Regions from separate parts of the Homo sapiens genome. Here region 1 is linked to region 2. The links come from fine-mapping of genetic effects on gene expression. A gene starts in region 2. The other region holds a variant in brackets. All regions are shown on one strand. Distances are between the middles of the regions. Region 1 overlaps ITGB8 (integrin subunit beta 8). Region 2 holds the start of ITGB8-AS1 (ITGB8 antisense RNA 1).

The links.
Region 1: its variant is fine-mapped to the expression of ITGB8-AS1 in pancreas (GTEx, PIP above 0.99).

The regions. Positions count from the first base shown.
Region 1 is chr7:20,378,108-20,386,448 of GRCh38, forward strand. ITGB8 (integrin subunit beta 8) reads left to right here. Exons shown (of 14, transcript NM_002214.3): 4 at 944-1,190; 5 at 2,559-2,724; 6 at 3,620-3,778. Among named protein-coding and RNA genes, the nearest start is that of ITGB8-AS1, 51 kb to the left of the region's middle. The variant C/T (reference allele first, on the strand shown) is at 3,489.
Region 2 is chr7:20,328,339-20,336,679 of GRCh38, forward strand. It overlaps ITGB8-AS1 (ITGB8 antisense RNA 1), which reads right to left and starts at 3,424. Exons shown (of 3, transcript NR_110120.1): 1 at 3,312-3,424; 2 at 1,029-1,175; 3 at 1-518. ITGB8 (integrin subunit beta 8) reads left to right here and starts at 2,562. Exons shown (of 14, transcript NM_002214.3): 1 at 2,562-3,595. The coding sequence starts at 3,469. RefSeq lists enhancers at 1,183-1,795, 1,883-1,952, 2,053-2,342 and silencers at 2,423-2,812, 3,283-3,522.

The DNA of each region.
Region 1 (8,341 bases), 50 kb after region 2:
TTTCACCATATACTTGAAATTAAAAGTAGAGGTACCAACTCTATAGAGGGTTAGGGGGGACAACCCAAGTCCTTGTATCAAATAGTAATATGACAGAGAACTAAATAAAATTGTAGTTCCCTGCGGGGACTACCGACATTTGTCCTTGTGGCAGCCCCCTCTCCTCATCCAGTTGTTTTGCCCAAGGTGGGTGCCTCGCTCATGGGCCCCCTCCTCAGCATGTGTTCATTGAACACCTACCGTGTGTTGGACAAATGCTGACCCCTACCTTCCCCAGGTCCTCCATGTGGCACTGCAGGGCACCATTCTTTAGCCCACTGTCTCATTCCTTCACTTGGCTAACTGATGGGAAGAATCTTACCAACTAACTAGTGATGAGGTACTAATTATTTTGAATAGCTTGCTGTACTACACAGTACCAGAGTTTTCTCATCTCCTGTGTAAATACACTTTAACCCAAAGGAATAAATTTATGCCTTTATCCAATAGGAGATCACCTTTTTTTAAAGATACCTTCCCAGTTTTCCTCAAGTCATTCCACACGTACATCCCCCTCACTGTCTTGAGATCGAATGCCGCTTGCTGGTTTGCACTGTGTTTTTCTAGCTACTAAGGCAATGGAGGTTCATATAATGATACAATACCCTGTTACATTTATATGGAGCTGGCCCATTTGTTATTATCCCTATTCAGCCTATAGAATTGTGGGAAATGAACTGTAGGATTTGGAGACCAATAAATTGGTATGGTTTTCAAATTGCCTTATAATTATACTAGAATAATAATTATACTATAATTATTATAATTACACTAGCATATTCCAAATTTTATGTGCAAATTTGTGATGATTGTGCTAGGTGCTAGAATGTGACTAATTTATTAAGAGCTTATCCTGAAAAGTTTAAAATGAAGACTACATGATGTTTTTCTTCTATTGAACTAGGAGCCGAAGCTAATTTTATGCTGAAAGTTCATCCTCTGAAGAAATATCCTGTGGATCTTTATTATCTTGTTGATGTCTCAGCATCAATGCACAATAATATAGAAAAATTAAATTCCGTTGGAAACGATTTATCTAGAAAAATGGCATTTTTCTCCCGTGACTTTCGTCTTGGATTTGGCTCATACGTTGATAAAACAGTTTCACCATACATTAGCATCCACCCCGAAAGGATTCATAATCAATGCAGGTATCTAGGGTTTGATGTGGATATGCTAAATTAATTTTTTGCTTATAAAATCTCACTTTGTTTTTAATGTAAAGAACTTACCAAATTTTATATTTTTATCTTATAAAATAAGAATAAAAATATTTGGTGAGGTGGGGAGGTTTCTTCATATCTGAAAACTTCTGAGATGAACTGTAGATTGGGCTTTTTATTTTATATTTCTTTAAATATTTAGTCAGTTTTTATCACCAAAAAAAACAAAAAAACAAACAAAAAACCCTACCTAATGTTAGTAACTTTGAATGAAGCTTCAATAGTTAGGCTGCCATGTATATAAATACCTCTTTGGAAATTCTGTATTTTTATTTTTTGATTGCTCCAAAATTGCTGAATTATGATTTGACACATTTTAAAGAGTTTGTGCCAACACGTCATCTATCTCTCCATTACTGTACTGTGACTGGGGATAATGATGTTGTCTCCGATGTGACTACAAAGAAATCTCAGTTATCACAAAGAAAGTGGGTCAAAAGATGAGAATTTGATTGCTTAGAAAGAGCCTTTTTTCTTATCATTTTAGATTTCTGATTCTAAATAACATATGTCCCACTATGAAAGAAGAATTAGCCTTAAAAATACAAGTGTCTCACACAATATTGCCATTAGCCTGTGGAATTTTCAGAAAAATAAATCTGTATGGATCTTTTTTCACAAAAGACTTTATCTTTCTTGCTTCTACAAATTGCTTAGATTACTTTACAATACACATTCCAATTTACCGAAACAGCTCTGTCATCTGTTGTACCGGAACAGGATTGATGCATCCATCAATGGAGTTTCATAAGCCTTCTTGAGGTGAATGTACAGGAGGAATCATTCTTACTTTCTGGGTATCATAGATTCTCAAAATAATTTTAATGAATATTGATTGTTCATCAATAATTCCACCAAGCATCACTTTAAAAATTAGTGCAGTATTAAAAAAAACTAATATCATATTTCAACTAAATTCCTCAAAAGCATTTTCCAGAAGTGTTTCTCAGCTGTTCAATGATAAGAAATCACTGCACATTCTTATATTCACCTTAAAAATTCACAGCGCAGATTAAATATTGAAAGCCTTTAACTGTCCTATATTAAAAAACATGTTTAATCATCTTTATTTTTTTGAATACCAAATGCTTATAGTCTTATTTCCTATTTGCAAAGAAATTGTCATCAGCATTGAGCTTATCTCTAATTTTATAAGCATAGATTTTCGTCGTATAAAGTTTCCCTGGCACAAAAGAAGTACTCCCTTTTCACACAACTGTACAATTTTACTGTTAAGTATTCCAGAATGCTTAAGAAGAGCAAAATAAACTTTACACTTCTTCTTTTCCCACACAGTGACTACAATTTAGACTGCATGCCTCCCCATGGATACATCCATGTGCTGTCTTTGACAGAGAACATCACTGAGTTTGAGAAAGCAGTTCATAGACAGAAGATCTCTGGAAACATAGATACACCAGAAGGAGGTTTTGACGCCATGCTTCAGGCAGCTGTCTGTGAAGTAAGACGTTTCACATGATCGAGTGTTTGCTAAGATGCCAAACTTTCAAAGAATTTAGACGTTTTATTTTCTCTTTGATTTGTGGAGTGAAAACGTAGTGTAGAAGAAAACATATCTTACTATCTCTTACTCCTCACCAAGGTGATTCATTTCGGTATGTGTTTGGGACAGAGGGGCTAAATTCAGGGAGGGATTTAAATAGGAAAAGACAAAAGGGAAAGAATAGGTTATGAACGCGAAAATTCTTTCCAAAAGGGCTGCTTTTCTCATGCGCCACACTCCAAGGAGGAACTAGAAGTAGACTGTTGCCCTCCTCACTTCAGCTTGTTCTCCTACTTTTTTTTTTTTTGAGACGGAGTCTCGCTCTGTCGCCCAGGCTGGAGTGCAGTGGCGCCATCTCGGCTCACTGCAAGCTCCGCCTCCCGGGTTCACGCCATTCTCCTGCCTCAGCCTCCCGAGCAGCTGGGACTACAGGCGCCCGCCACCACACCCGGCTAGTTTTTTGTATTTTTAGTAGAGACGGGGTTTCACCGTGTTAGCCAGGATGGTCTCGATTTCCTGACCTCGTGATCCGCCCGCCTCGGCCTCCCAAGGTGCTGGGATTACAGGCATGAGCCACCGTGCCTGGCCTCTCCTACTTTTTAATCTATATTGTTCTTCCTCCAGTGGAACACTAGAAATCTCTAGCCAGGAACTAGTGTGGTCACATGGCTGTGGGAAAATAGAGGATGTACAAATAAAAGTTAAAGCTATTTACGCAGCAG[C/T]GTTGTACCCACGCACATCGTTCTAGCCTGACTTACTGTTCGTCAACTCAAACGTAATGTTTACTTGAGGTAAAAACCACAGTACACATCTGTGTTATTGTACAAAGTCTAATTACATGTTTATTTTTAAGAGTCATATCGGATGGCGAAAAGAGGCTAAAAGATTGCTGCTGGTGATGACAGATCAGACGTCTCATCTCGCTCTTGATAGCAAATTGGCAGGCATAGTGGTGCCCAATGACGGAAACTGTCATCTGAAAAACAACGTCTATGTCAAATCGACAACCATGGTAATGCAGCAGTAACCGCTTAGTAGATATGACTCTTTTGGTTAAAGTACAATTTTAAATTGGCAACTCAACTATTTTTGTACCAGGAAATTACCTACAAAAGAAAGATACAGAACAAGGATAAGCCATGAGAGAGAATTTATGGAACAGTGCAATCTATAAATACTGATCAATAAAATATATGAATAAAACAGTTTGACAGTTTCTAGTAGCTGACTCTTTGATGAATGACAAAGCACTGTATAATTTTTGAAAATAAAAATGATACAAGATTTTACTTTTTATGTAATTCTAAGACAGGGGAAAAAAGTATACCTTTGCTTTATACAAATAGACCAGGTCTACGGGGTCGATATCTACAAACATTTTAAGGAGGAAACCTCACAGTACAATAGGTAGAAACTAAATAGAAACCAGGGAAAAAAGACAAGAGAGAAAGAGAGTCAAACAAAGCAGGCTTTCTCTGTTTTGTACTTTACCTCTCTGCATCTTATCTATTTAAGGTCTCTTTTTAAATCAGTGACTATCTGGCTTGCTTCCTGAGGGTTAGTATAAGCTCTGAATCATATATTTAATATAATCACCTAGAACCATATCTTCCCTGGCATTATCTAATTCTAGTTGTGAAGAATCAACAGTCCAAAGCATCATTTACTTCTGATGTTGACACTTATTTATATATTCTTGCATATGTTAAAACAGAACCTCTCCAACTTTCTCAGTTCATGAGACCCTAGTCTCTCAGTGATTTTATTCCATGACACCCGTGGGTCAAAAGAAATACCTAATAGTTCTGTTTTTTTAAGTGGTTAAGTCCAAATAACTCAACTATTTATGTCTTAACAACTTAGTATCTCCTTAAAAATAATACAAATGTATCAAGTGTAGAGATACATGTTTCAGTTTTAGTAAGTAACTTCAGAAATTTTCAAATCCTGAAATCAGATTGGTCATCACTACCCTGATTTCTTCTTCCGTGTTGATTTTCAAGTTGACCAGCTTGGTAAAGATTAATGTCATTTAAAAGAATAGAACGAAATGTAATCTTAAAACTATGAACTCCCTCCAACTAGTTCTTCATTGGTACCTGATACATGCTGAATGTCACTGTATTTCTCTTGAAGATTTAAATTATTTCCTGCCACCCTTGGGAGTGTGCTGCAGTGCACCAAGACACCTCACACACAGTTTGGGAATCACAGTATCAGAAGCATGAAAATTATGCTGAAATTTGTGTGGTTCCCATGGGTAAATTTTAAGTAGATCACCAGTTCATCTGCAATACCCTACCAGATCTGTTGAAATTCTAGAGTGGCAATTGTATTACCATATGAAACAGGTTCAACACTTGGTCATTTTAGTTTCTTGAAAGTAGTATCAAAATATAAAGATTTTAAAAGGTAACTAGAGATTGAATTCAAAAATTCAAGAATTGGAGTTATTCCAATAGTGTCTTTCCATAATTCTCTTCTACTCAGCCTTATTTCACTTTGACAGACCCACCTACTTCTACTTAGTCATTTCTTATCTATCTTTCCTTCTATTTAACCTCTTTTGATTGATGGTAGAGTTCTAATTTATTTATTGGGGAGTAGGAGAGGGTACAGGAAGAATTATTCTATTGTGAGACAAAGAGAAGGTTTTTATTTTTTTAAGAAGAAAATAACAATGACATTATTCTCAAATTGTATTATTCTTTTGAAGTTTTGCCAAGTCACTGAAGTCATCTCTCCATAATTGTATTTAAAAGGATACTATTGCTCATCTAGGGAGGATTTCCTAGGCAAAGAAATGCTGTCATAATTTTAGGCATATACCATGTTATAGAACCTTATGGAAATAAGTTATAAGTCCAGTGGAATTTTAGATAGGGCTTGGATTCTTATGACATCAGGAAATTGGATGATTACATCAAGACCTTTTACCTTCTTGGTCATTGTTCCCAGTATTTAAAGGAGTGACCCTTCCACATGTCACTGCTGTAGTATATTGAGTAATCCAAGGAATAATGTGTTTGTTAACACCTTAGAAGGATACTTTTATTTTATTTACCCCAGGTCTTTGTTTTAAAGGATTATCTTCCTAAAAATTCTCATTCCCTTCATTTGTAGGGTCACTGCCTACATATTAGGTAAAAGAAGCTGAAGCATTTTGATTGATCCCTTGGCCATGAATTTATACATTCAAGATGTGCTCCTGCTTTGGAATGTTCTATATTGAAAGCTACCTTGACTTTGACTCTAGGCATATTTATTTGTGCATTTCAAAATGACCTCTATCCTCCCCTATTTGGCCATTATGGAGGAATTTTAAATTTTGTTTAAGACAAGTAATCAAACACTTTGCTTCTTGGCTTTATCTCCAGCAGCCAATGCCAATAATGTTGAATGGTATCTGAGTTTCTTGATTCAAGAGTCTTGGGGTTTGTATTTATAAAAGGAAACAACTGATTAAAAAACCCTTTATATGTCTAAATTACATGGGACAGAGTTCTGTTGCTTATACATATAGCTATTTCCTGAAGGTCAATGTGAACCCTAGACTAATAACAACTGCCATTTTATTGAGTATGTATTCAACTGAAAGCACTGTAGCAATCACTCTGCATACAGCATCAAATTTATCTTTACAACAACTCTATAAGGTAGTCATAATTAGCCTCCTTTTACAAACAGCAGGACTGAGGGTCAGAAAAGCTAAGTAAGTTGCCTGAGAATAAACAGCTAAAACATTAATAAATTGCAGAGTTGGCCCTAGTCTGTCTCAATCTTATATTAAAATCTGCATTCTTTACTTTGCCACAGTCTGTCGACTGAAATGCAGAAGAAAAAGAAAAATAATGTTCTTGTTGTCATTTCTTGTCTTTCTGGTTGCAGTCTTATGAAAGTATAACCAGATGATTTGACTTGCATAAGTTGTAAAACAACATATAAAATAATTTATATTTACACATTGTGATATTTGTATATGGTTGCTGGCAAATGATGTTACACTATTGAATAAATTACATTTTCCACTGCTTTTTCATCAAGATCAAGTGCCAGAATAAAAAACTGTAGCAATAGTATAGTTTTATGATTTATCCAGTGATAATGACAATTTGAAATGTGACATTCTTTCTAAAATGGCAGATGTTAATACAAAAATTATTAATGATGTAGTAGACTATTAATACTGAGGGTTTGGAATTTCACCCTGTCTCCCCACCCAGCTTCTCCAGGGTTATTTCTACCCTTAGTCAGAGCCCTCCCAGAAACTGTTCACCCACCCCTTGGTGGAGGCCAAGAATAGCATGAAGGTCTTCAGTAACAATGAAAGAAGACCAAGGAACAAGTATGTGGAGGTCATCCAATGAACCTTATCAATGGGATTTTCAGATGTTGATGTGACTCACAGTTTTAAATAGCGAGATTCAAATTGGCAAGATCCTACCACATTCCTATTGTATGTACTAGTGCATACCATATATTCACTAGTATTTACTGGTTTAGGCTTGGTGTTTTTCCATGCAGCCTTTTATATGCCTCATCACATTATGGCCAGTGATTCTTTATCCCTCCTATCATATACCTCCTCAGAATCCCCTTACTGCTGGCTTCATAGTTCATTCCTTTTCCTGCAGGCTCATTTGGATAGGCTAGCTGCTGAGTCGATCAGCATCTTATAGCATGGAGGCAGAATTGCAGAAGGCCTATCAGGCATTAAACAGTTTTGCTTTCTCACTGGCAAAAATAGTCAACACTGTGCCTCTCCTCATGCAACTTTAACATGTACTTGACTTTTAAGTATGCCATTTAGGAAGCTTTCTTTTTACTATGAATCTTATCTACTTGGAATTATACTTAATTTTTCCAGGACTGCAGATGAATAAAGAGAGCTTAAGAAGCTACTTTGCTAATGTAATCCATAACTTTGCTACCTGAGTTAACAAACGTTCATAACACTATTACATTTATTCTTTCTGAAAGGGATATTTCTGACATTTTCAAAGTCTGGAAAACATTTATAACTAATGTTGAGATCAGACAGAATTCCATGTGAGGAGATAATTGTGATCTTTTAATAAAGAGATCTGTTAATTTTGTTTGCTGTTTCCCGACAGAGACGTGGCCTTTTCTACTTCAGAAAATGTTAAATCTTTTTCTGCTTCTCAGGTTTGTCTCAGATGCATACTAATAAAAATGCAAATTCATGGAACACTTATTTTGTGCCAGGTATGGAATACAACTAGAAAGTTTTAAGTCCATGTGCAGCTTTTAAAAACGATTGTTCCATCTTTTGGGGCATCGAAAGACTACAAAGTACCTGATTTCAGCTTGCTGAATGATCTGCTTCAAATTGTAAACACTATGAGAACATTTTTTTTTTTTTGAGACGGAATCTCACTGTGTCGCCCAGGCTGGAGTACAGTGGCACCATCTTGGCTCACTGTAACCTCCGCCTCCCAGGTTCAAGCGATTCTCCTGCCTCAGCCTCCCGAGTAGCTGGGACTACAGGCGCGTGCCACCACACCTGGCTAATTTTTTTTTTTTTTTTTTTTTTTTTGGATTTTTTAGTAGAGAC
Region 2 (8,341 bases):
ATATGACGAAGATAACAATACTGCATTTCTTTAAAATATGCTGTACATTTCCTCATAGGAAAAAGGGTGAGTTATGGTGACCAGTGACATTAACTGGAAACAAGCAAACTTTTGGTTCCTGGGCCACTAGTTGTATTTACTTTAAGAAAACCCTAAAGATGATTTGCAGTCTTTCAGAGAGTTTACTTTTATGTTTACAGCCCAAAATGTGCAGATAACTTGTTTGTAAATAACTGGCAGGGGTCACAGTGTCACATCTAGGAGATTTCATTTTATTTTATTTCGACAACCAGAGTTACAGCCTCTTTACAACTGAGAAGTGGTAATAAATGGTATTGTGCTTATTCTTCAACAACTCCATAGCACTGGCACCTGACATATATTTGCATGAATTTCATGTAACAAAATGTAGAAATCTTTCTTTCTAAAGGGCTTCAAAATTTCCCGAAACAGACTTCTGAACTTCATTTTATTCCTCTTGCTACATGGTTGTTCTGGATTAGTATATATATCAACACCTAAAAACAGAGTTACAAAAATTAGTGCATACCTCATCAATTTCATAAAGTTACATCCTTTCTTGTTTGCATACATTTATATTTTATTTATTACTGTAACTGCCACTTACAACCCAGCAACAAAGAGTTGTATTTTAGAATATTATGGAATGGTGATATGATAGACACTTTAAAGTGTATTGACATGTCCTTATGGGAATTAGGGATTTAATTTTTTTTTTTTTTGATTGAAGCACTGCATGTCTCAAGGGTGGCTGCATTCAGTAGGTCTGTGACATAACCCCTGGAAAATACCCAGGCTGCCCAATGGAAGAGTCACTAATCAGATATTGAATATGATATTTTTGTGTTCAAATTTTCAAGTCCTCACACCCATCCTAACTAATTTTTAGGCCTTTCCTTTAAGACAACCAAAAAACAAAACTATAACTGTTCAAACTTGGAACTAAGGAAAGGAAATAAATATTAAAGCGGAGCTGGATTTATTTCTATTTATTTAGAGTACATCACCTCCAGTAGAATTATGTTGCTAAGGTTGGGATCACGGCTTTGGTCTCGCGAAGGGACCTGCTTTGCAGATCCAGGGCTCGTTTAATTTTCCAGCTGGGTTCCTGCTTTGCTTAACTAATCCTGTGCACCCCGTTGTGCGGTCCACACCTGAAAGGGGGAGTTTCGATGTTGTGGTTTATTAACCAGGTACTTTCCATTCACTCAGTCAACAGAAAGAAAGAGAGAGACCGCGCCTCCTACTTTTTTTTTTTTTTTTTTTTTAACTACAAATAAGGAGACGGAAACTATTAAATAAGAAGGGGGGAAACTCCCGCATATTTCACCTTGACCTGGCTGGACTGGTCTGCTGCCTCTAAGAGGCGGGTGTTGTATTAAAATGAGAGGTCAAACTCCTCGAATGGGAATCGCTCCTGCCCCTAGAGGGAAAAGAGAACCATCACCGTGTTAAACTGGAAACACTGCCTTGTTTCCAATGCGGGGGACTGAGTTCCCTCCCTCGACTTAGCGTGGTAATGACAGGACCCGAGGAGGCGCGCTGCTTCCGGGCAGTTGCCCAGCATAACACCCGCACCCTACTTGCACCTAAATTTCTGAGCTGCAAGCAGGCAGAAGTGCCTTCCACTTTCTCTCCTTAGCTCCCCTCTCCCCGCTTTGCTGCTGTCTGTAACTTTTTGTTCCGTTTACTGGGAAGGTGACGCTTAAGATCAAAAGACCCACTGTAACTTGCAAAAGCCCAGAGCCACCACCAGACGCTGGGGAAAAACAGGGCTGTCCAGTCCAGGGTTAAGGTTTTGAGCAGAGAAGGAGCAGCGAGAAATCTCGGCCAGTCGCTCCGGGAACAGCCCCTGCAGACTGGTCCAACTCTCCAAAGGCTAGGGACACCGGGGCAGCCTTGTGGTGGGGTAGAGGACGAGCTCCTAACTGCAAGCAAAGTGCTGAGTAGAGGGCGTTGGGGGCAGGGGAGGTCCCTTGACTCCACTTTGTATGCAGCAGCTGCGGGGCAGTGAGTATCTCCGAACAAAGCGGCGAGCAGCGCGGGGGTGAGAGATTGGGGTTTGCTCGCAGCTGCCGCTGGCGCTGAGCGAGTCTCCCACCACCCCCGCGAGCGTTGGGGTGCAAGGATTCGGGGGAGGAGGGAGAAGGGAACGAGGCGTGCCATTCCTGTTGCGCGGCTACGCTTCAGGAGTTCTTGTGAACGATGGGAATGGCAACTATCAGAGCCAAGGGGGAAAAGAAAGAGCTGGAGTGAGCAAAACAAAGAGCGAGTGTGGGCCGCGGTGACTTCATGCCTCACCAATGTCCCGCCCACGCTGCTCCGAGCTGTTACTGCTGCTCCTGCCCGGGCTGCAGCCGCGCCTGCGGGCAGCCGAGGCGAGGCGCTCCGGTAGCGTGGGGAGGTTTCCTAGCAACTCTCTGCCCTGAGTGCACCCGGCTACCCGCAGGTCTGGAGCCCCCCGGGGGGCCAGAGCAGGACCACCCCTCTCCCGCCCATCGCCGGCCTCGCCTCTCTCGCATCCTAGCCGTGTGCACCCCAGAGCGCGCCAGCAACTCGGGCTCTGGACTGCGGGACGCCTGAGCCGCGCACTGAGGCGAAAAGGACAAGGGCACGCAGCCCCCGCCCCGCGAAGCCGGGCTCCGGCACCTCGCGGAACCTCCCCTCCTGCGCTCGCAGCCGCAGGCCCCACTCCCCGCCAGGGAGGGAGCGGCGATGCCTCGCTCTGTGCCTGCGGGTGTCGGCGGGTGCTTCTAGGGCGCTCCCAGAGCCGCCTCCCCCTGTTGCTGGCATCCCGAGCTTCCTCCCTTGCCAGCCAGGACGCTGCCGACTTGTCTTTGCCCGCTGCTCCGCAGACGGGGCTGCAAAGCTGCAACTAATGGTGTTGGCCTCCCTGCCCACCTGTGGAAGCAACTGCGCTGATTGATGCGCCACAGACTTTTTTCCCCTCGACCTCGCCGGCGTCCCCTCCCACAGATCCAGCATCACCCAGTGAATGTACATTAGGGTGGTTTCCCCCCCAGCTTCGGGCTTTGTTTGGGTTTGATTGTGTTTGGCTCTTCGCTAAGCTGATTTATGCAGCAGAAGCCCCACCGGCTGGAGAGAAACAAAAGCTCTTTTCTTTGTCCCGGAGCAGGCTGCGGAGCCCTTGCAGAGCCCTCTCTCCAGTCGCCGCCGGGGCCCTTGGCCGTCGAAGGAGGTGCTTCTCGCGGAGACCGCGGGACCCGCCGTGCCGAGCCGGGAGGGCCGCAGGGGCCCTGAGATGCCGAGCGGTGCCCGGGCCCGCTTACCTGCACCGCTTGCTCCGAGCCGCGGGGTCCGCCTGCTAGGCCTGCGGAAAACGTCCTAGCGACACTCGGCCCGCGGGCCCCGAGGTGCGCCCGGGAGGCGCGAGCCCGCGTCCGGAAGGCAGTCAGGCGGCGGGCGCGGGGCGGGCTGTTTTGCATTATGTGCGGCTCGGCCCTGGCTTTTTTTACCGCTGCATTTGTCTGCCTGCAAAACGACCGGCGAGGTCCCGCCTCGTTCCTCTGGGCAGCCTGGGTGTTTTCACTTGTTCTTGGACTGGGCCAAGGTGGTAAGTTGTTTTGTTTTGTTTTGTTTTCTTCTCTTCCCCAAAGGTCTTGGGCTGGCACGAAGAGCTGCCCGGCCAGAGCATCCCGGCCAGGTAAGTTGCGGTCATCAGAGAACTTCAAGGGGGCGGGTGCGGGGCAGCGTCCTCCAGCACAGATGGCCTAGAGGCCAGGTGTCAAGCATTTCTGCCCTGGAGCGACAGCAAGGACTAATTATCAGAGGAGACACTCTGTGTTACTCCTAGGTGTTGAGGAAGCCCTAATAGAAAGGAATTTTGGAAAAGAGGGTGTCCTGTTTACAGAAGTCATTTAGGGGCCCTGGTCCATTCTTAAGGGCATCGTCTGTACACAATGTTCTCCCTATCTTTCTAACATTTGGGTCCACTAAGGACTAACTTGCCTTTAACTCGAGGCTGTAGATAAGTTGGTTATAATGGGAGTAGTCTTCAATTTTTGAGTCCAGAAAAAGACAGCATACAAGTTTCTGCTATCATTAGTGCTCAATCTGAATGAATTACCCACACTGGAGGGATATTAATGCTTTAAGTCATCATCCTTTCGGCTTAAAAAAAAAAAATACTATCTAATTGATCCCTCACTGAGATCAATCTCTGAGACAGAGAAGCAGAAAGAACTCTGAACCAGGATTAACAGCTTTCTGTCCAGGCAAACCATTTGTGTAAGAGCTACCTTAATGTGGAGAGGTTAACTCTTTACGAAATGCATTGTCCTCATCTGTAAAACGAGGTTTATTAATAATACCTGCCTTCTCTAAATCACAAAGGAAAGTTCAAGTCAAATAGCATATGAGAAGGTGTTTTAGGACTTTTGATTTATGAAACAAAATCAAATGTAAGGTGGTATACCAGATTGGATTGTTGGAAAATTACACAACTAAGTAATAGGACGAATCATGAGTTTAGGATGAGTTCTTAATGGTTTTCAATATAGGCCCAACATTTATTTTTGCTAATGCAGTGACTCTTGTCATACTTTCTTTTTTTTTTTTTTTAATTTCACTTTTTCTCTGTTTGGTCACCAAGTCCTTAAATTATATTAGAGCCTTTCTCTGACCTCTTGGGCTCAAGGAGAGTTTAATTAATAGTTGTAATTGTTTTGTAGGTTAAAATTTACTCCTATACTTTAAAGTGTCAAGGTTTTGCCTGAAGCTAATTAAAACAGTCAAATCATAACCTTATAAGTAGGTTTTATATATATAGATATAGAGATATATGGAAACATCCAGCTATCTTTAGGAAATTGTTGCATATACAGTTTTCTAATATTTGTTTCAGGGAGATTTGCTCAGTTATCTGAAATGGAGAAATTAGAGTAAATCTCTTTATCTTGTGGTTATTTTTTGGCTTGTTTGTTGATTTCAAAATAGTGAAAAGGCAAAGGAAAAAGTAACATTCATTATCAGTTATCTCTTAAATGGAAGAAACATGCATTTGTTGCAGCAAATTTTCCGCTAAGCATAATTTCATCCTGTTTCAATAAGTAATAAAGTGCTTTTCTAGATTTAGTAAACACACATACACACTAGTAAAATGACCAAAATTTGTGTTAACACAGTATATTTTGTTCCCAACGTACAGGCAAAGGAAAAAGTCCTACTTGCCTCTAAAATTTACTATTTAAAGTACATTTTTAAAAACCATTAACTGTGCTTATAAACATTAGTCAGGCTCTTGTGAAAAAGCATTGCATTTCTACCCAGTGTCTAAAACTGATTTGAAGGAAATATTATGAATGGGCCTACTTGCACCTGCAGACCTGAAAAGGGAATGCTTATCTGAAATCAGAACAAGGCATCCTTTTCCCAGTCTCTGTCAATATACAAAGGTTTCTGATGTATACTGATTTGCATGGCAGTTAAAAACATGCAAAAAATGTAAATTATAGCCAGTATAACTCAGAAAATTAGAGATCAGCATAAACTGCTGTACTTTTGTGATATAGCTACAAGTCTCAAATTATATGTCTTTACAGTGCAAATTAGATGCTTAAAGCAGAATAGAAATTTAGGTATCAGTTACAATGGAAATCTTGTTTCCTTGCTCAGTAGTTTACACCAGGAGAATGTTGAGGGCAATAAAGCCATACAAAAGAGACCAGAAGCTGCATAAGACCAGCATAACTTTGGGTTTAATTTTTAAAGCAGAATTTATAGGTCTCGAACATATAGTGGACTTTTAATAACAAATATATAGTGAGCAGTGGGGGATGTTATTAATCAAATCCAAAGATTTCTGATGTAGCAAAAATTATAGCAGTTTGTTTTTTAACTGTCTCTGGTGAAGATTACCCACAGCTAGAGAAATAATAGCACTGTAAAATGGTCAATAAATAACCAGAAAAACATAAAGTATATCTAGTGGTTAATATTTGAAGAGTTAATGTAGCAACATTGTTTCCACATTTACTTATTTTAAAAGATTAAGAACTTTCATTACCTAAATTTTTATATAGCAATATAAGTGTAACAAATTTCAGATATCACAGTTTCTTTTAAAAAAGCGGTAACTATTATTGCAATCAAATTTCACCTTCTGTGTATTGCAATGAAATTTCACCTTCTGTTTATTCAAGTATCAATTATTTATTATTTTCAACAACAATCAACTAGATTAACATTATTTTGTGACCATATCATTACTTCCCCTCAAAGCGTTGCATAGCATAAGTGTTCCCAGAATTATTTATGCTTACCTAAAGTGATCGGATATTTAAAAGAACCAAGGTATCATTAACAAAAAATTCAGCCTTCTAAATTATTTGCATAATAAGCTCCCAAATTAATTCTATCTTGAAGCAATGGAGACACTTTCTGATCAATTAAAAATCATACATGTTTGCCCTCTAAACTGACAGCAAAGTAGCTGATATGCTTTGGAAAATTCCTGTGCCCCAAAATAACTTCTTCTCTTGTTACCAAATTATCTGAAATCTCACTACTTAATGGATTCTTTTTGGTTAACCATGGTATTAACCCTATGATTTTTTAAAGTTTTTAACATGGTATAATGGAAATTTTCAAATGCATACAGAATTAGAGAGAATGGTATAAGGGACCACTATATACTCATCACCCAGCTTCATTAACCATCAACTCAAAGCCAACTTCTTTCATCTGTGCTCCTGCTGGTACCCAATTCACCCCCTTCTCCCAACTAAATATTTTGAAAGAAATTTTTCATATCATTTTATTTTAAAATATTTCAGTAAATAAAAATACTACTGGAGGAGGAACACACTGTAACTAATCTTAAAGCATGAATTTTTTTAAAAACTGAAACTTAGGGCAACAAGAATGTTCACAATTTTTAAGGGAAGCAATTGCAAAAGAGAAGGACACGAGGAATGGGAAAGACACAGTTTCAACCATTTACTTTTCAATAGTTCTATTATAGTTCCATTAAAAATATTTTTATTTTGAAAGTATGGATATGTAATAGCTTTTTGATACGCATGTATATGAACAGAGAAAAACAACATGAGTAAATCTGCTTCCCGTGACAAATGTTAATTGTTTTATTCCAATGGAATCACAGCAGGTATACCTTGTAAAGTTTCAGTTTCAAGGATCTGCCTGCCCTTGCATGATTAGTTTTTCTCCTATCTACTGTATCATTTAAAGCAATATCCATATATGTGGCAAAACCTTTTTATCTCCTATTTTTTCTCTCCTTTTGCTATAAGTCCTTGAAAGAGTTGTCCGTAACTCCTCTCTCCGATTCTTCTCCTCACCTTCTCTTTGAATCCATTGTGAGCAGGCTTTCTTTATCACCTCTGCAGTCCACTCTCTTAAGATCAGGGTAACCTCCACATTGCCAGATCTGATGGCTAATTCTTAATCTCCATCCTGCTTGATGTATCATCTGTTGGTGACTTGACACTGTTGACCTTGCCCTCCTTGGAAACAGTTTTGTTGGCTTCTTGGACCCACACTCTCTTGGTTTAAGCTCCTTCTCCATCTCTGATGTTGATTCTTCCTCATTTCTTAACCTCTAAATGTAGTAGTGGCTCAGGACCCACTCCTAAGGACTTCTCTGATCCAGTCTTGGTTTTCTTTTTTTTTTTTTTTTTTTTTTTGAGACGGAGTCTTGCTCTGTCGCCCAGGCTGGAGTGCAGTGGTGCGATCTCGGCCCACTGCAAGCTTCGCCTCCTGGGTTCACACCATTCTCCTGCCTCAGCCTACTGAGTAGCTGAGACTACAGGCACCCGCCACCACGCCCGGCTAATTTTTTGTATTTTTAGTAGAGAGGGCGTTTCACTGTGTTAGCCAGGATCGTCTTGATCTCCTGACCTCGTGATCTGCTCGCCTCGGCCTCCCAAAGTGCTGGGCTTACAGGCGTGAGCCACCACACCCGGCCCAGTCTTGTGTCTTAAATACCATTTCCACATTGACACCTCCAGAATATTTATCTCTAAACCTGACCTCCAGAAGGTGCAGCAAATTGTGTAAACCATGTCTCCACTACACGCCTAAAGGCAAAGACCCTAACGCATTCAAAACCAAACTCCATTTTCTTGTCCAGTCTTCATAATCACACTGTGAGAGAGGTCCCTGTTTTTGAAACAAATAAACAGGAGCAGAGGAGATAAGTAACTTGCCCAATGTCACCTATCTAGTAAGTAGGAGAGATGGGATTTGAACATCGTAGAGAAAGCTTGAATTATGCTTCATAATATGAACTTCCTAATCAGTCTTCATCATTTCAAACCTTTGTCCACATGTTCCTTTCTAC